Homo sapiens: one gene and its partners. The protein of the gene in region 2 interacts with the protein of the main gene of each other region in a biochemical or structural test. Each region holds a gene or a part of one and is shown on either strand. Other genes may lie near its edges.

Region 1 (6,505 bases), on a different chromosome or scaffold from region 2:
TAACTCAATCATTTAACATTATAGGTTGAGTACTTTCTATGCACTAGGCTTGGTATTAGTCAACACAGCTAAAACATAATTTGGATATCATCTCTGTCTTGAAGTTGTTCATAATATAGAGATATTAGCAGTTGTGGTCACAAAATGTGACACCACAAAGAGAAAATTCTAAATGTTATGGCATCGTCAGCAATAGGCAAGCAGTAGAAACAAAGACTGCATCACAGTGTCCAGATTGAAGAATCAGAAAGGAAGTTTGTATTAAAAACCAAGTAGAGCAGTTTTCTACTTATCAGAAAGCCTGCAGTACTGCTCAACTTTTAATTGAAATGTCTGTTTTCAGCATCACTCTCCATATAGCGGGAATTCTCCCTGAAGGAAGTATGAAATCAAAGTTTAGATTTAAAAAAAAATCAAGAATTCCCATGGAAGAGATATAGTACTCCAAATTGGTTTTACATTTCTTCTGATAGAGAAAAATTATTCACAAGATCAATGATTTGTTCAGGTTTAACATTCATCAGCTATGTGAAAAGCAAAATATGTGTTTACTATATAACACATAAGTACCAGAATTATGATTGATAGCAGTATTCTGATATATATGTTGTTAGATTCAAAACCAATATATATTGAAAAACTCCTCAAGAATATATGTCATTTAAAATGACATTAGATAGTACTTCAATTCGGTCTCTAATTTCTGTTTGGAATGTGGGATAGAAGTAAAGATGAAGACCAAAATTACATAAGCTTGAGCCATTAGAGAAATTAAATATAACACACGTAAACATGGAGAGTTTATTTCAAATATCCTGATGTCAAAGCCACAAATTATGAAATTGTATTTGGTTTTCATACTAGTACCAAAACATCAAGATGGCATCCACAATTCACTAAATTTCTTTCGAGCAGCCACAGTTTGTACTTTGCCAACCCACATATTCAGCCAAGTACATAAACATGTCCCCATGATAGATGTAATTTGTGGTCAAAAGACAGAGCATTGTGGAGACCCTGCAGTCATCCTCAGACAAAAAAGGCTTCAGAATGATGATTTCCAATTCCTATCACAAGAACAAAAAACCAAACACCGCATATTCTCACTCATAGGTGGGAATTGAACAATGAGATCACATGGACACAGGAAGGGGAATATCACACTCTGGGGACTGTGGTGGGGTGGGGGAGGGGGGAGGGATAGCATTGGGAGATATACCTAATGCTAGATGACGAGTTAGTGGGTGCAGCGCACCAGCATGGCACATGTATACATATGTAACTAACCTGCACAATGTGCACATGTACCCTAAAACTTAAAGTATAATAAAAAAAAAAAGGCTTCAGGATGGATCATTTACACTGGGTCAAACATTGACGTTTAAAGGTTTTACTGTGTGATTGAGGTTTATTATTGGGCATCTTATCAGAATAAAATAATGTGTGGTCTGTGGCATATTTTAAAAAATTTGTAGAAAAGTAGAAGATAAAAAAAATTACAAGAATACAAAGATCTCTTTGAAACAGTTTATGTGTTAGCTTTTTTCCATATGACATTTATTATTTTCCTTCTGTGCCCTTGCCTTGATACATTAAGTGCAGAGCGCAGTTTCCTTCTGCATTTCTAAAACCAGTCCCTTGCTAAAGCTACCTGCAAGAACACGGCAGAGAGGTCAAAAGTGCATGGCCTTTGCAGCTGGACAAATTTGAATTCTAATCCCTTCTCTGCCCTCTAGTGACTATTGGACTTGAGCAACTCATTTTACCTGACTCAGTTACAAAATATATAAAATTAGGGTAAAAGACCTACCATTGTAGGTTGTTGTAGTCATGTCATAATCTACATAATGAGCCAACATAGTCTTGTAGCTGGCTGTAGGGCAGTAAGTAGCATCTCTCAAAGTAATGATAAGTTTACTATTGTTATTGATAGTGTCCTTAGGAGCTCTGCTACTTGAGGGCTGTTTATATTCCCCTTGTTATCTGCCCTCACCTTTTGACCCTCACTTTCCTGCTCATTTCTAAGAACTACTTTATCTGTATCCGATAAAGCTTTCCCTCTTATGTTTCCAGGCAGCTCCAAAAGCCCCAGGCAGGGCAATGTTGAAGACAAGCAAGCAGACAGACACTATTATCTTCCACCTTATAGGGAACATGAATGTGCTTTTAATGACCAGAGATTCAGGAGAAATGCACTAAATCTCCCTGAATATAAAAGGACCATGCCAAAGAATGAGCTGTTTATGGTCACTTTTAATGTGATAGATAATAATAATTTATTTGGTGGTTTCAAATTTAGAGAGTAAACTTCCAAAAATTAATGAAAACTGTTATATTAGTAAGCCATTGACTAAATTTTTTAGGTCTTCACTCATTCTAGCAGCATGTTCATTGAAGATAGTGCCAGCCAGGCATGGTGGCTTATGCCTGTAATCCCAGCACTTTGGGAGACTGAGGCAGGAGGATCACATGGGCCCAGGAGTTTGAGGCTGCAGTCAGCTATGACTGAACCACTGCACTCCAGCCTGAGCAATAGAACAAGACCCTGTATCTTAAAAAATAATAATTAATTTATTTAAAAAGAAGATAGTGCCTAATAGTTGTGGACATTGGGAAGAAAGAGTATGACTTTTTGGTCCTACTTTACAATAGTTTCTCAAAAATTCTCATGTCGGCAGGACACGGACCCATAAACTTACTTGACTACAGGAGTAGCCCTTCTAAGTGTCACCCAAGACGTAAATTAAGTCCATAGCATATTATAATACATCATTTCAATTTTTAATTCACAGTGTAATATCTCAGGGCAATTGTTCTTTAGATAAAAATTGAATGAGATTATTTAATATCAGAAATACATTACTTAAGTCATTCTGTATAAATGTATAAATGTCTTAAAACCATTGGGATGTGAAATTATGCAAGATTTACCTAGCATACCTATGTTGTCATTGTTTCAGGAAAAATTATTAGTATTTTTACTGTATCTCTTTTTTTACATTTTATTATTATTATACTTTAAGTTTTAGGGTACATGTGCACAATGTGCAGGTTTGTTACATATGTATACAAGTGCCATGTTGGTGTGCTGCACCCATTAACTCGTCATTTAGCATTAGGTATATCTCCTAATGCTATCCCTCCCCACTCCCCCCACCCCACAACTTTATCTTATTTTTAAAACTTACTTTTTTAATGCATGTATATATGTTTCTTGACATTTTGCCTTCTGGTAGGAATTTGGGACTGCTGGATCATAGGGACAGCATACACATTTGTGATCATATTATTTTAAATGATTAATCATGTTGTGTAAACAGTTCACATGGTCTCACACAGAAAATCTTTGATCAAAAGCTTTTGTTTTTCTTAAATCATGTAAGAATAAGAGATTCTGTTTTGTGAAAGGACCCATTTGTTTTCCAGGGCTATGCAATCTCGCCTTAGCTGAAGCAGACTAAATGAGCAATAGTGACATGTATCAATGAAATAATATGCACACTTTTGGTTTACCTTGCAGGTGCACCCACCCTATCCCCAAGTCTTCTCGGCTTACTGCTGCCTGCCTTTGGCATCCTTGTCTACTTGGAATTCTGAATGTGTTGTGACAGCTGCTGTTCCCATCCCAGCTCAGAAGACACCCTTCAACCCTGGGATGACCACAATTCCTTCCAATTTCTGCGGCTCCATCCTAAGCCAAATAAATTATACTTTAACAAACTATTCAACTGATTTACAACACACATGATGACTGAGGCATTCGGGAACCCCTTCATCCAAAAGAATAAACTTTTAAATGGATATAAATGATTTTTAACTCGTTCCAATATGCCTTATAAACCACTTAACCTGATTCTGTGACAGTTGCATGATTTAACCCAATGGGACAAGTTACAGTGTTCAATTCAATACTATAGGCTGTAGAGTGAAAGTCAAATCACCATATACAGGTGCTTTAAATTTAATAACAAGTTGTGAAATATAATAGAGATTGAAATGTTGGTTGTATGTGGTAAATGTAAGAGTAATACAGTCTCTTGTACTTTCCTCACTGTTTTGGGTACTGCATATTATTGAATGGCCCCTATCATTCATGACATCTTGAGTTTTCTTGAAAAGACAATAGAGTGTAACAAATATTTTGTCAGAAATCCCATTATCAAATCATGAGTTGAAAGATTTTGACTATTGAAAACCAAATTCTAGAACTTACTATCAGTATTCTTATTTTCAAAGGAAATAATTTTCTAAATATTTGATTTTCAGAATCAGTTTTTTAATAGTAAAGTTAACATACCATATAGATTTTTTTTTACTTTTATATTCTACTCTGAAGTTATTTTATGCTTTTCTTATCAATTTCAAATCTCAAAAATCACAGCTCTTATCTAGAGTATCATAATATTGCTATATTTGTTCATATGTGGAGTGACAAATTTTGAAAAGTAGAGTGCTTCCTTTTTTATTGAGATGTGACAGTCTTTACATGGTTAGGAATAAGTGACAGTTAAGTGAATATCACAATTACTAGTATGTTGGTTTTTCTGCTTCATTCCTAAGTATTACGTTTCTTTATTGCAGATGTCAGATCAAAAAGTCACCTGTAGGTTGAAAAAGCTACCGTATTCCATTTTGTAAAAATAACAATAATAATAATAATAATAATTAGTTTTAAGCTCATTTCCCACTTCAATGCAATACTGAAAACTGGCTAAAAATACCAAATCAATATACTGCTAATGGTACTTTGAAGAGTATGCAAAACTGGAAGGCCAGGAGGAGGCAAATAATATGTCTTTCCGATGGTGTCTCCCAAGTGTTGGTGCTTTGGGTTTTTATAAGTTGTGAAAAGGAAGATGCACATTTCTTCATTCTCCATGGTGTGCATGGAAATGTGTTTGAGTGTGGATGTAAAAGAAATCGAGTAATAAAGAATTAGCTGGCTTGTGAAATAGTGCAGTGTTGGATGCTTCAAGAGGTATAATCCTATTTTATTAGCACAAACTTGCTAGCTAATTAGAGTTTATCTTTTTAGAAAGGACACCGTATAGGTTCGTAAAAAATATTTACAGGAAGCAAAATAGATCTATTACTACTTTACCGACTTTACCCCCTTTCTTTAATTTGTATAATTTTTGTACTATATATCGATGTGTAAATGTTTAGAGTCTTCATTATGAAAATATCAATAAATATTTCATTAGTTTACATTTAACTCTGGTATAAAATGAAACTTTTAAAAATAAGTGAAATGGATGATTTCCCAGTGGAAGTATGTCAACAGTCTTAAGATCATTGCCAGATTTCATAAAATATTTAAGTATTTGAAAAAGAAACAAAATGTCTTCATACTTTAGGGAAACGAATACCCTGTATACCTTCTGTACAAATGTTTGTGTTTTCATTGTTACACTTTGGGGTTTTACTTTTGCAATGTGACCCATGTTGGGCATTTTTATATAATCAACAACTAAATCTTTTGCCAAATGCATGCTTGCCTTTTATTTTCTAATATATGATAATAACGAGCAAAACTGGTTAGATTTTGCATGAAATGGTTCTGAAAGGTAAGAGGAAAACAGACTTTGGAGGTTGTTTAGTTTTGAATTTCTGACAGAGATAAAGTAGTTTAAAATCTCTCGTACACTGATAACTCAAGCTTTTCATTTTCTCATACAGTTGTACAGATTTAACTGGGACCATCAGTTTTAAACTGTTGTCAAGCTAACTAATAATCATCTGCTTTAAGACGCAAGATTCTGAATTAAACTTTATATAGGTATAGATACATCTGTTGTTTCTTTGTATTTCAGGAAAGGTGATAGTAGTTTTATTTGATACTGATAAATATTGAATTGATTTTTTAGTTATTTTTTATCATTTTTTCAATGGAGTAGTATAGGACTGTGCTTTGTCCTTTTTATGAATGAAAAAATTAGTATAAAGTAATAAATGTCTTATGTTACCCAAGAAAGAACAACTGTCCTTTCAATTTACCTCAAGTTTAAATTTTTTAGAAGGTTTTCATTACAAGTTCGATAGCAGGGAATAAATATTCTGGTTAAGCAACAGTTCAGTATTTGAAGTACTACAAAAAGTACACACATAGAAACACACACAGAGTCATTATTACATTGAAATAAGTTCACCTGGTAAATAACTTCAACCCATAAAGATGTCAGTGAATATCATTCAATGTAAAGTGAAACACTAAAGCCAGCTGCTAGATGCTAAGAAAATGAGACTTTGTAACCCTGAATGAGCGAGTCTGGAATAGAGGTATCTGCATAATGGCATGAATCTATAGGAGGAGTCTGCTACAGGTAAAGCTTCTGAGTCCTGAGACAGGCTGGGCCCAGAAAACTGCATCCCACGGCTGCCTGTGTCCTGCCTTCCCATTTTCTCCTGTGTTCTGATCGTGGTTTCGCATTGGAATTCTCATCTCCCTTCCTGTTTCATGAAGCTTGCTTCACCCTGGATTCTGGTTTTCCTTTTTGGACGTTGT
Region 2 (7,028 bases):
GAATATAAATTGGATGTGGCATAGACCTTGTCTCTTTTATTCCCTGCAGCACTCCCTGATGGGGGCGGCAGAAAAGTAACGAGCAAATACATCTATAACTGCAAATTGTGGTAACTCCTACATAAACAACTGGCAGCAATTGCTTATATTTGAGGCACTTAAAAATTTTTAAGCTGGCTGGGCGCGGTGGCTCATGCCTGTAATCCCAGCACTTTGGGAGGCCGAGGCGGGCAGATCACGAGGTCAGGAGATCGAGACCATCCTGGCTAACACGGTGAAACCTGTCTCTACTAAAAATACAAAAAATTAGCCGAGCGTGGTAGCAGGCGCCTGTAGTCCCAGCTACTTGGGAGGCTGAGGCAGGAGAATGGTGTGAACCCGGGAGGCGGAGCTTGCAGTGAGCCGAGATTGCACCACTGCACTCCAGCCTGGGTGAAGGAGCGAGACTGTCTCAAAAAAAAAAAAAAAAAAAAAAAAAGAAATTTTTTTAAGCTGCTGGGCGCGGTGGCTCACGCCTGTAAATCTCAGCACTTTGGGAGGCCGAGGTGAGCGGATCACCTGAGGTCGGGAGTTCGAGACCGGAACATGGTGAAACCCTGTCTCTACTAAAAATACAAAATTAGCGGGGCGTGGTGGCTCATGCCTGTAATCCCAGCTACTTGGGAGGCTGAGGCAGGAGAATCGCTTGAACCCAGGAGGCAGAGGTTGCAGTGAGCCGAGATCGCGCCATTGTACTCCAGCCTGGGCAAAAAGAGTGAACTCCATTTCAAAAAAAAAAAAAAAGGCCAGGCGCAGTGGCTCACGCCTGTAATCCCAGCACTTTGGGAGGCCGAGGCAGGCGGATCACGAGTTCAGGAGATTGAGACCATCCTGGCTAACACGGTGAAACCCTATCTCTACTAAAAATACAAAAAATTAGCCGGGTGTGGTGGCGGGCGCCTGTGGTCCCAGCTACTCGGGAGGCTGAGGCAGGAGAATGGTGTGAACCCAGGAGGTGGAGCTTGCAGTGAGCCGAGATTGCACCACAGCACTCCAGCTTTGGTGACAGAGCGAAACTCCGTCTCAAAAAAAAAAAAAAAAAAAATTTAAGCTTAGAGGCCGGCCACAGTGGCTCAGCACTGTGCAGGCCAAGGCAAGAGGATCACTTGAGGTCAAGAGTTCGAGACCAGCCTGGCCAACATGGTGAAACCCTGTCTCTACTAAAAAATACAAAAATTGGCCAGGCGCGTTGGCTGGCGCCTGTAATCCTAGCAACTTGGGAGACCAAGGCAGGCAGATCACCTGGGGTCAGGAGTTCAGGACCGGCCTGGCCAACATTAAAACATATAAAACCCCGTCTCTACTAAAAATATAAAAATTATCCAGGCATGGTGGCGTGTACCCGTAATCCCAGCTACTCGGGAGGCTGAGGTAGGAGAATTGCTTAAACCCGAGAAGCAGAGGTTGCAGTGAACCGAGATTACGCCACTGCACTCCAGCCTGGGCAACAGAGCGAGACTCTTTCTCAAAAACAACAACAACAACAAACAAACAAATTAGCCAGGCATGATGGTGGGCACGTGTAATCCCAGCTACTCGGGAGGCTGAGGCAGGAGAATTGCTTGAATGTGGGAGATGGAGGCTGCAGTGAGCCGAGATCACACCACTGCACTCCAGCCTGGGCGACAGGGAGACTCTGTCTCAAAAAAAAAAAAAAAAAAAAAAGTTTATAAGGCTGAATTACCGTACTGTCAAAACAAGCTGCTATCTGAGCCGTTTTAAGGGTGAGGAAGTCTGGAAACTGATAACTTGCCCAGGACACACAGTGAGTTCAAGGCATGGAACTCAGTCTCCTATCTTAAGAATGTATGTGGGCCGGGCATGGTGGCTCACGCCTGTAATCCCAGCGCTTTGGGAGGCCAAGGCAGGCAGATCATCTGAGGTCAGGAGTTCAAGACCAGCCTGACCAACATGGAGAAACCCTGTCTCTACTAAAAATACAAAATTAACCAGGTGTGGTGGTGCATGTCTGTAATTCCAGCTACTCAGGAGGCTGAGGCAGAAGAATCACTTGAACCCGGAAGGCAGAGGTTGCGATGAGCCGAGATTGTGCCATTGTACTCCAGCCTGGGCAACAAGAGTCTGGAACTCTGTCTCAAAAAAGAAAAAAAGAATGTATGTGTAGCAGGCTTTTTTTTTTTTTTTTTCCCCCGAGACGGAATCTGGCTCTGTCGCCCAGGCTGGAGTGCAGTGGCGCAATCTTGGCTCACTGCAAGCTCCGCCTCCCAGGTTCACGCCATTCTCCTGCCTCAGCCTCCCGAGTAGCTGGGACTACAGGCACCCGCCAGTACGCCGGGCTAATTTTTTGTATTTTTAGTAGAGACGGGGTTTCACCGTGTTAGCCAGGATGGTCTTGATCTCCTGACCTCGTGATCCACCCGCCTCGGCCTCCCAAAGTGCTGGGATTACAGGCGTGAGCCACCGTGCCCGGCCTATGTGTAGCAGGCTTTAATGGTGGGCCTGCAGCCATGTCATGGAAAGAAGCTGACCTGAAGATCTCAGTTCTTTCTTCTTCTACTAACTAGCAAGCATACCTCAGTTTCTTCTTTAAAGCGGGATGATCCGATTATTATCATGTTGGGGTTCACTTTTTATTTTTTCAGTGTGTCCCAAAGCAGCAGCACGTTTAGGTATAGCCCTCTTGCTATCAGCTTGAGGGCCTTAGAGCCAGGAAGGGAGCCAGGACATTTATAGGCACAGAAACTAGGGTCACATACAGATCCCCCCACCGCATGTGCTAGGGGTACATGCAGACCTTCCCAGTGCTGACCAACCTGCAGAGAAGAAATGGGCCCTAGGTATTCTGGATCTGATTCTTTTTGGTCTTCAATTATTTTTATTTTTATTTTTTTAGAGACAGGGTCTCGCTGTGTTGCCCAGGCTGGCCTCGAACAGCTGGGCTCAAGCGATCCTCCTGCCCTAGCTTCTTGAGTAGCTGGTGGTCATCAATTCATTTTTAGCAAATTCTGCAGAATTTTTTTTTTTTTTTTTTTTTTTGAGACGGAGTCTCACTCTGCCGCCCAGGCTGGAGTGCAGTGGCGTGATCTCGGCTCACTACAACCTCCGCCTCTTGGGTTCAAGCAATTCTCTGTCTCAGCTTCCTGAATAGCTGGGACTGCAGGCGCCCGCCACCATGCTTGGCTAATTTTTTTGTATTTTCAGTAGAGACGGGGTTTCACCATCTTGGCCAAGTTGGTATTGAACTCCTGACCTCGTGATCCATCCGCCTCGGCCTCCCAACGTGCTGGGGTTACAGGCGTGAGCCACCGCGCCCGGGTTCTGCAGGAATTTTGGAGAGACTCAGGCAGTAATAAAATAGGATGTTTACAGAAATTAAAGATGGCGGCCGGGCGCGGTGGCTCACGCCTGTAATCCCAGCACTTTGGGAGGCCGAGGCGGGCGCATCACGAGGTCAGTAAATCGAGACCATCCTGGCTAACCCCGTGAAACCCCGTCTCTACTAAAATACAAAAAAATTAGCCGGGCGTGGTGGCGGGCGCCTGTCGTCCCAGCTACTCAGGAGGCTGAGGCAGGAGAATGGCGTGAACCCGAGAGGCGGAGCTTGCAGTGAGCCGAGATCGCGCCACCGCACTCCAGCCTGGGCGACAGAGAAAGACTCCGTCTCAAAAAAAAAAAAAAGAAATTAAAGGTGGCTGGACACATTGGCTGGTGCTTGTCATCCGAGCTACTTGACAGGCGGAGGCAGGGGGATCGCTTGAGGCCAGGCGTTTGAGACCAGCCTGGGCAGCATCATGAGACCCTGTCTCTAGAAAAAATAAAAAAATTAGCTGGGCATAGTGGCGCAGGTTTGTAGTTCCAGCTACCGGGGATGCTGAGGCGGGAGGATTGCTTGAGCCCACGAGTTCGAGGCTGCAGTGAACTATTATTGCACCACTGCACCCAACTTGGGTGACAGAGACCCCATCTGTTTGTTTGTTTGTTTTTGAGACAGAGTTTCGCTCTTGTTGCCCAGGCTGGAGTGCAATGGTGCAATCTTGGCTCACCGCAACCTCTGCCCCCAGGTTCAAGCAATTCTCCTGCCTCAACCTCCCGAGTAGCTGGGATTACAGGCATGCGCCACCATGCCCAGCTATTTTTTTTTTTTTTTTGTATTTTTAGTAGAGACGGGATTTTCTCCATGTTGGTCAGTCTGGTCTCCAACTCCCGACCTCAGTTAATCCCCCAAATTGGCCTCCCAAAGTGCTGGGATTATAGGCGTGAACCACTGTGCCCAGCCCGAGACCCCATCTCTTAAAAACAAAATAAAACAAAACAAAAACGGCCAGGTGTGGTGGCTCACACCTGTAATCCCCAAACTTGGGAGGCCGAGGCGGGTGGACCACTTGAGGTCAGGAGTCTGTGACCAGCTTGCCAACATGGTGAAACCCCATCTCTACTAAAAATACAAAAATTAGCTGGGCATGGTGGTGCGCACCTGTAATCCCAGCTACTCAGAAGGGAGGCTGAGGCAAGAGACTCAATTGAACCCAGGAGGCGGAGGTTGCAGTGAGCCGAGATTGCCCCACTGCACTCCAGCCTGGGTGACAAAGTGAGACTCGCTCTCAAAAAAAAAAAAAAGAAGAAATTAAAGATGAAAGAAAACAAACATTCCAAAAAGTTGAGAAAGAATTGCCTTTTGTCCAGCCCCACTCCCAACCCCCCAACCCTGTTGTAATGTGTGATCTGTTTTCTTCCAGTCTCGTTTCCTCTCAGTCCATCCACCCTTCATGGGGCCAGAGCCCTCTCTCCAGAATCTGAGCAGCAATGCCGTTTGCTGAAGACAAGACCTATAAGTATATCTGCCGCAATTTCAGCAATTTTTGCAATGTGGATGTTGTAGAGATTCTGCCTTACCTGCCCTGCCTCACAGCAAGAGACCAGGTGAGCAAGGGAAGTGACAGCCCGACACTGGCCTGGGGGCAGGGCTGTGGAATTCAAAGCTCAGCCCCATCCTAGTTCCTCACCCAAGCCTGGGCTGGCTCCTTCCTTCTTCCTCTTGCTGTGTCTTGCTCCTTGTCCTTGCTGCTTTTCTTTTTTTTTTTTTTTTTTGAGATTGAGTCTCGTTCTGTCGCCAGGCTGGAGTGCAGTGGCACGATCTTGGCTCATTGCAACCTCCGCCTCCTGGGTTCAAGTGATTCTCCTGCCTCAGCCTCCTGAGTAGCTGGGATTACAGGTGCGTGCCACCACGCCCAGCTAATTTTTTTGTTTTTAATAGAGACGGGGTTTCACCATGTTGGCCAGGATGGTCTTGATCTCTTGACCTTGTGATCCGCCTGCCTCGGCCTCCCAAAGTGCTGGGATTACAGGCGTGAGCCACCGCACCCTTGCTGCTTTTCTAACTTTTGGATGGAGTGTGGCTCAGGGTGGCGTTGCTGACTTCGCCGAGCTCCCCCTTGTGTTGCTTTTGTGCACTGCTCAAAAATATGGCGCTGGCTCTCTGAGATTTCCTGGCTCTGGTCCACTTGCCCACTTTTTTTGGAACCTCCTATTTCCTTCATCTCTCTTGCCCTTCCTTGTCCTGCTCAGTTTTGATTCCATTCTCCTTGTCATGGGGCCCTGTCCTGGCACGGAGCTGGGACTCAGGTTTGAGAGCTGGCAGGATCAGGGTCGCTCTAGCCCCAACAGAACTTGCTGCAGGCCCCTGGCACTCACTAGCTGGTGAAACGGGCACAACCCCTCCCCGTTGTAGCTGCTGTTCTCAGATTGGACCCCTGTGCTCCAGAGGGTACCTGTTGGCTCTTTTGGGGCCTCCTGTCCTCAGATTTCTCAGGAGCCCCATTGTTGTCTCCGCTGTCCTCCCACACAGATCGCATTAGTATGCAGGTCTGTTTGGAGTTTGCTCCTCCCTCTTGTATTTTGGGGTTTATAGGGATATCTTGTTTTATAGTAAATATTTTCTGTGGGTTTTCTTTATTTTCTTTAAAAAATTTTTTTTTGAGACGGAGTCTCGCTGTGTTGCCCAGGCTGCAGTGCAATGGCATGATCTCAGCTCACTGCAACCTCTGCCTCCTGGGTTCAAGTGATTCTCGCGCCTCAGCCTCCTGAGTAGCTGGGGTTACAGGCGCATGCCACCACACCTGGCTGATTTTGTATTTGTAGTAGAGATGGAGTTTCACCATGTTGGCCAGGCTGGTCTTTATTTTTATTTTTGAGACAGAGTCTTGCTCTGTCACTCAGGCTGGAGTGCAGTGGCACGATTTTTTTTTTTTTTTGAGACGGAGTCTCACTCTGTCGCCCAGGCTGGAGTGCAGTGGTGTGATCTCGGCTCACTGCAAGCTCTGCCTCCTGGGTTCACGCCATTCTCCTGCCTCAGCCTCTTGAGTAGATGGGACTACAGGCGCCTGCCACCATGCCCGGCTAATTTTTTGTATTTTTAATAGAGACGGGGTTTCACTGTGTTAGCCAGGATTGTCTCGATCTCCTGACCTCATGATCCACCCGCCTCGGCCTCCCAAAGTGCTGGGATTACAGGCGTGAGCCACTGCGCCCAGCATTTTTTTTTTTTTTTTTTTTGAGATGGAGTCTCGCTGTGTCTTCCAGGCTGGAGTTGCAGTGGTGCCATCTTGGGTCAACCTCTGCCTCCTGGGTTCAAGCAATTCTCCTGCTTCAGCCTCCTGAGTAGCTGGGATTACAGGTATATGCTACCACACCCGGCTAATTTTTGTGTTTTTAGTAGAGACGGACTTTCACCATGTTGGTCAGGCTGGTCTTGAACTCCTGACCTTGTGATCCTCGGCCTTCCAAAGTGCTGGGATTACGGGTGTGAGCTACCGCACCTGGCTATTTTCCTTTTTCTAAAAATCTAGCTCCTGCAGGATTCTGTGGGTTTTTGTTTCTGCTGTCTGGTTGCTTGTTTTTATGTGAGAATTCAGGTAGACATAAAAACTCTAGGGCTGGGCACGGTGGCTCACGCCTGTAATCCCAGCGCTTTGGGAGGCCAAGGCGGGTGGATCACCTGAGGTCAGGAGTTCGAGACCAGCCTGGCCAAC
Region 3 (7,028 bases), on a different chromosome or scaffold from region 2:
ATTTGGGATGGAGTTGGGCAGAGTGTTCACAGAAGGTAGTGGGTAAGAGCGGGCCCTTCCTACTGGGGTGTGAGGAGGTAAGACGACCTCAGTTTACGAGGATGTTCTATTTTTTTCCATTGAATGATCCCTTCTGGGCAGGGAAATAAGGAAGAGAGGTGGTTGTGAGTTTTTTGTTTGTTTTTAGAGACAGGGTCTCACTTTGTCACCCAGGCTGGAGTGCAGGGCCCAATCACAGCTCACTGCAGCCTCCAACTCCTGGGCTTAAACAATCCTCTCGCCTCAGCCTCCCAAGTAGCTGGGACTACTAGTGTGTGCCGCCACATCAGGCTAATTCTATTTTTTTTTTTTAGAGTCTCTTTTGTAGGGTCTCACTATACACTGTATTGCCCAAGCTGGTCTTAAACACCTGGACTCAAGCGATTCTCCCACCTCGGCCTCCCAAAGTGCTGGGATTACAGGTGTGAGCCACCGCCCCGACCGAGGTGGCTGTGTTTTGATTTTGTTTTTATTTTAATGATAAAATGAAAAGGTGGGATGTGGAGTCATCGGCTCAGAGCCGAAAGGGACGCTGAAGCCCCCAACATTGGAGCTGGCGCCACCCCCATGGGCCAGCACCCTCCCACCCTCACTTCTGCGGCCTCTGCCTTGAAACCAGGCCTCGGCCATGGCTCCTGAGCATCCATAAAGCCCTCGCTGTTGGGAGACACAGCAGGCCTTCTTTGAGATGCTGTCCCACAGCCAAACCCTACAAGTTGTGATTGTTCCAAAGACACCGAGTGCCAAACGGCAGTTGAGGAAAATGCCGTCCTCATGCTTGCTGGACCCCCCTCTGAAGAGCAGAAAACTTTCTTACGGGAAAGCCTGGCTGTTGAAGCAGATTTGAGAACCGTTTGATGATGTCCCCCACCTTGGGGACAGCAGAGAAGCCACAGGTCCTGGCACCACTGGCCTGTGTCACATGCTGGGCAGGGCCTGTGCTTCCCTTAGTTGAGCAGTCCTCCACCGTGGACCCGCAGTTCTGAAACCCAGAATAGCCTACAAGCAGAAGGTTTTCAGAAAGCTCACAGCAAAGTCATTTTGGACAGAAAAAGCTGACCTGTACTGACTTCCAGCCTTTCTTCCCACTTAGTGGCCATCAGTGATTTACAGCTGGGGGCGGTTTGGCAGTGTCTGGGGACATGTGTGGTTGTCTCAACTGGAGAGTGTTTCTGGTGTGCAGTGGGGGGAGCCAGGGGTGCTGCTCAGCCCCCTGCCGTGCGCAGGACAGAATCATCCACCCAAGATGCCCACAGTGCCACAGGCGACAGACCTGCATTAATTATTTGGGAAAAAAATTGAGCTTGCTCCTGCTCACACTGGACAGCAGAATAAACTTCTGATTGGGCAGAGGGTGGAAATCAGGGGGTCCCCAGCTCCTAGGATTCACCTCCTTGCTCCCTCTCCCCTTAGTGTGTGGATTTATTTTATCTTTTGTTTTGTTTTGTTTTGTTAGAGACAGGGCCTCACTTTGTTGCCCAAGTTGGCCTCAAACTCCTGGGCTCAAGCAATCCTCCATAGTTTGTGAATTTCAATGTGTGCAGCCTCCTGGGACCTTAGTAGAGCAAATGATCATGGGACACAGAGTCTCTTGGGGATCCGTGGCATCCCCTAGCCCAGGGTGTCTAAGCTGGGGCACTTCTGCTCAGCTCTGTCCCAGGGTAACAGGGATGGGGTAGGGTGGAGACCCTGAGGCTAAGAGGTTCTCTGGGATGTGGCGGCGGGGGCCGGGGGGGGCGGTGTTCCAGGAGGGAAAGCAGCACGTGCAAAAGCCCTGGGGTACAGAGGCACCGGCGGCACTGGAAGAGAGGAGTGTGACTCAGTGAATGCAACTCTTTCCACTTTCTGAACCCTCATTGGGTCCCTAGCCACCTGCCACCCTGTCCAGTTCTCACACCTCAGTTTAAGAGAGAAGGAAACAGGTACACCAAAGAACCAAAGATGAGATTTCTTGGTTTATTCTGTGTTAGTTCCCTGCGAAGGAACGCACATCCCCCTCCACACACACACCCCTGCCCCCCACACCCCTCAGCGTGGATCGTGCTAGGCCCTGTGTGCCTGGAATGCTAAGCCGAGTTCCAGCTGTCACTGGTAGGATCTTGCGTGTGCCACCTGTCTGGGCCTGTCACTCCCTCTGTAAGAGGGGGCTGTGACCCCCGCCTTCTAGGTTTATGCGGGGACTCAGCCAGGTCTGATTTCTTTTTTTTTTTTTTTTTTTGAGATGACGTCTTGCTTTGTCACCCAGACTGGCGTGCAGTGGTGCGATCTCAGCTCAGTGCAGTCTCCACCTCCCAGGTTCAAGCAACTCTCCTGCCTCAGCCTCCCGAGTAGCTGGGATTACAGGCACCCGCCACCACACCCGGCTAATTTTTGTATTTTTAGTAGAAGCCAGGCTGGTCAGGAACTCCAGACCACTTCAGCCTCCCAAAGTGCTGGGATTATAGGCCTGAGCCACCGCTCCTGGCCCAGGTCTTGTTTCTGCTGCTTGCTGTTGCCTCTTCCAAATCTGAGGTCACCAAGTGAGGTGTGTCTGCCTGGGGATCCTGACCTGATGCCGCCTGTTACAGAATCATTTCCAATGAAACCTCTGAAGAGATGTCGGCACCATTCTCAGCTAAAGACACCTGGTTGGGTGTGACCCTCATCTCAAAGACCCCAGACTTTGAAGAGAAACTCTTTTCTTGAGGCAGGGTCTCACTCTCTTTCCCAGGCTGGAGTGCATTGGTGTGATCACAGCTCACTGCAGCACGGACCTCCTGGGCTCAAGCGATCCTCCTGCCTCAGCCCCTCAAGCAGCTAGGGCTATAGATGTGTGCCACCACACCCAGCTAATTTTTTAATGTTTTGCAGAGATGGGGTCTCCCTATGTTGCCCAGGCTGCTCTTGAATTCCTATGCTCAAGTGATCCCCCCGCTTTGGCCTCCCGAAGTGCTGCTGGGATCACAGGTGTGAGCCACTGCGCCTGGTCTTTTTTTTTTTTTCTGAGATGGAGTTTTGCTCTTATTGCCCAGGCTGGAGTACAGTAGTGCGATCTTGGCTCACGGCAACCTCCACCTCCCGAGTTCAAGTGATTCTCCTGCCTCAGCCTCCCAAGTAGCTGGGATTACAGGCGCGCACCACTACGACCGGCTATTTTTTGTACACTGGGTTTCACCTGTTGGTCAGGCTGGTCTCGAACTCCTGATGTCAGGTGATCCGCCTGCCTCGGCTTCCCAAAGTGTTGGGATTACAGGCATGAGCCACTGTGCCCGACCAGTCTTTCTTTTTTTTTTGAGACGGAGTTTTGCTCTGCCACCCAGGCTGGAGTGCAGTGGCTCTATCGCAGCTCACTGCAGCCTCCACCTCCCGGGTTCAAGCGATTCTCCCGCCTCAGCCTCCTGAGTAGCTGGGACTACAGGTGTGCGCCACCATGATTGGCTAATTTTGTTTGCATTTTTAGTAGAGATGGGGTTTCACCATGTTGGTCTCAAACTCCTGACCTCAGGTGATCCACCTGCCTCTGCCTCCAAAAGTTCTGGGATTACAGGCGTGAGCCACCATGCCAGGCCAAAAATTACCATCTTAATCAGTTATAAATGCACAGTTCAGTGGCTTTAAGCACATTCACACAGCTATGTAGCCATCGCCACCATCATCTCCAGAAGTTTCTCATCTCCCCAGGCTGAAATTCTGTCCCCATGAAACATTCACTCCCCAGCCCCTGGCACCCCCAATTCCACTTTTGGTCTCTGTGAATCCAACGACTCTAGGGACCGCCTAGGAGGGGAGTCACACAGGTTTTGTACCTTTGTTTCTGGCTTATTTCACTGAGTGCGACGTCCTCAAGGTCCGCCCATGTTGTAGCCTGGTCAGGATTTCCTTTTCATGGCTGCGTAGCGTTCCGTCGTGTGGCTAGGCCACATTGTGTTGATCCACTCACCTGTCCGTGGACACTTGGGCTGTTTGCTTTTGGCTATTGTAATGCTGTTGTCAAAACGTGCTTAAAAATAAAACAAAAGAAACTCCGTAAACCAAAAATCTTCACCTTTCGGGTGGCATGTGTCTGTTTTCCTTGGGCTTGGGGGTCAGGAGACCTGACTGGTTTGCTCTCTGAACCCTGTTGGCCGGGGCGGATGACGTCAGCTTTTGTGGTTTCACTTTCTGGTGGTGGTTGACTGCCGTGGGCCCTGATGTGTCGTACATGAGATCTTTGGATTCTGGGACTGGCTGCCCGCCGGCTCTAGGCAGTCCTGATCCCAGACCTCAAAGTTCTGGGCTGTCCATTGTGTCCTGAGATGGGGGCGGAAAACTCATTACCATCCCGCAGGAGCTTTCAGGAAGACCGTAACTCCCTGTCCAGCGACACAAAACACAGCTCTTGTAGATTTCTCCCCCTTTAAAACATTGAGCTGTGATTCCCACACCGCTGTGATCCCCACACCGTGAAATTCAGTGGCATTTGGTGCCTTCACAGGGTTGTGCAACCATCACCACTCTCTGGTTCCAGAGCTGTCTCATCGCCCCAAAAGGGAGCAAGGAAGCTGGTCCCCACCAGCTGTCACTCCCCTTCCCCTCCCCAAGCCCCGGCACCCACGCGTCTCCTTCCTGTCTCTGGATGGGCCTGTCCTGGACATTTCATAGAAATGGAGTCGGTGTCACACCCTGTGTGTGCTTTGGGTCTGGCTCTTTTGCTCTCTGTTTTGTTTTGTTTTTTAATGATTGCTGATGGATGTTGCTTTCCCTGAAAGGGAAACAAAGCTGTGGGCACACCCAGTGTGTCTGGGACTATGCTTGTTTAGTGGCGTGGAGGTCCACGTCGCCGGTGTCATCTGAGTCTGACGTCAGCCACTGTTTAAAGCGTGGCGGGCCAATGCCTTGCTTGTCTCTGGCGCGGGGTGGGTTATGCGGTCAGGCAGCCCACGCCTCATTTTCTAGGGGGTGGTGGCTGTTCACCTCATGTAGAGGCATTTTAGGGGAACCAAGACACTGAACGCCTCTGATCTTGAGTGTGGGGGCAGGTCAGGCGCCTGCCGGGCGCGGATCCTGCCGTGCCTGTGGCTCCAGTGGCCTTGAGTGAACACCTCCATCCCCAGTCCTGCCGCATAGGTCACTGCGCCGAGGTCATGAGACGGTGTTGTGTCAAGGGCCTGGTGCACCCACAGGCTCTTCAGGTCCTCCTCTTCTAGTCCAGCTTTCTCCCAGTGGGAGCTGTGGATGTTGAGGCCGGATCATCCTCTGGGATGGAGCCGTCCTGGGCACTCCAGGGCACTGAGCAGCGTCCCTGGCCTCCCCCCACTCCATGTGAGACAACACCAAGTGTCTCAGCACATCCATCGAGAACCGCTGGTCTGGGAGAGAGACAGAATCTGGAGAGACATGCACGCACACACACACATGCGCGCGCACACAGCTTCAGCAAAATCCAGTGGGTCAGTAGAATCCACGGCTTTCCTCAGCATTTGCCTCCTGGAGGAGGCCGGGTATGGTGGCTCACACCTGTGATCCCAGCGCTTTGGGAGGCCAGGGTGGGAGGATTGCTTGAGGCCAGGAGTTTGCCAATGTTCATGGGCAGGTATTTTACATAGTTGACGTTCTAGGTCTGCGAAGTGCTCAGGTAGGTCATCTGCATGGTTTTAATGCTTTTGGTGCCCTGCCTCTGATGCTGTCTACACGGGGATGGTTGTAGGTGAAGGCCTCTGTGTACGCGTGCACGGGTGTTAACCTACGTGTCTCGGGCCATTAGACATCTGTGCACTTAAAGTTAAAATGGACATTTGCATAGACGTGATAGGAAGTGTCGTTTTCTTATAAAAGAAGCTGCCCCTCGGGCAGCTGGCTCCTGGGACCGCAGCACAGTGAGCAACGCGCAGCTGCTCCCTCCCTCCGTGTCCCTCGGCCACCGCCCTTCACTGCTCCCTTCCGTGTGATGACAGCCCGTTTGTTCTCCTGTCTATGTGATCCTGGGCATGCGACCACGCGTCCCTGCCCAACCTGGCTCAGTTCAGCTGGAGACAGGGCCGACCCGCTTGTTGGAGTCGTCACGAGGACTGAGGTGCGTCCTGAGATGCCTGCTTGCCAGGTGTTAGTGTCGGTTTGCTGGGGCCGCGGTGACAGAGTGCCATAGACCAGGCAGCTGAAACAGAGTTCATCGTCTCTCAGTCCTGGAGGCCGGAAGTCCATGATCAAGGTTCTGTCGGGGCTCGTTCCTTGTGAGGACGTGAGGGCAATCTGGTGTCCCTGCCGTGTGGCCGCGTCACCCATCTCTGCCCTCGGTGTCCCTGCCCTGTGGCCGCGTCACCCATCTCTGCCCTCGGAGTCCCTGCCGTGTGGCCGCGTCACCCATCTCTGCCCTCGGAGTCCCTGCCGTGTGGCCGTGTCACCCACCTCTGCCCTCGGTGTCCCTGCCGTGTGGCCGCGTCACCCACCTCTGCCCTCGGTGTCCCTGCCGTGTGGCCGCGTCACCCACCTCTGCCCTCGGTGTCCCCGCCGTGTGGCCGCGTCACCCACCTCTGCCCTCGGTGTCCCCGCCGTGTGGCCGCGTCACCCATCTCTGCCCTCGGTGTCCCTGCCGTGTGGCCGCGTCACCCATCTCTGCCCTCGGTGTCCCTGCCCTGTGGCCGCGTCACCCATCTCTGCCCTCGGAGTCCCTGCCGTGTGGCCGTGTCACCCACCTCTGCCCTCGGTGTCCCTGCCGTGTGGCCGCGTCACCCACCTCTGCCCTCGGTGTCCCTGCCCTGTGGCCGCGTCACCCACCTCTGCCCTCGGTGTCCCTGCCGTGTGGCCGCGTCACCCATCTCTGCCCTCGGTGTCCCTGCCGTGTGGCCGCGTCACCCACCTCTGCCCTCGGAGTCCCTGCCGTGTGGCCGCGTCACCCACCTCTGCCCTCGGTGTCCCTGCCGTGTGGCCGCGTCACCCACCTCTGCCCTCGGTGTCCCCGCCGTGTGGCCGCGTCACCCATCTCTGCCCTCGGTGTCCCTGCCCTGTGGCCGCGTCACCCATCTCTGCCCTCG

What was found.
Region 1: the proteins of MAVS (region 2) and CNTN1 form a complex in vitro, tested with the Homo sapiens proteins (one study listed by BioGRID).
Region 3: the proteins of MAVS (region 2) and SGTA form a complex in vitro, tested with the Homo sapiens proteins (one study listed by BioGRID).

Annotation. Positions count from the first base shown.
Region 1 is NC_000012.12:41,066,439-41,072,943, forward strand, and holds the end of CNTN1 (contactin-1 isoform 1 precursor), read left to right. Parts: intron 1-3,520; coding exon 3,521-3,597; 3' UTR 3,598-5,977; downstream 5,978-6,505. UniProt on the Homo sapiens protein: Contactins mediate cell surface interactions during nervous system development.
Region 2 is NC_000020.11:3,849,822-3,856,849, forward strand, and holds part of MAVS (mitochondrial antiviral-signaling protein), read left to right. Parts: intron 1-4,736; 5' UTR 4,737-4,803; coding exon 4,804-4,920; intron 4,921-7,028.
Region 3 is NC_000019.10:2,773,246-2,780,273, reverse strand, and holds part of SGTA (small glutamine-rich tetratricopeptide repeat-containing protein alpha), read left to right. Parts: intron 1-7,028. UniProt on the Homo sapiens protein: Co-chaperone that binds misfolded and hydrophobic patches-containing client proteins in the cytosol. Mediates their targeting to the endoplasmic reticulum but also regulates their sorting to the proteasome when targeting fails.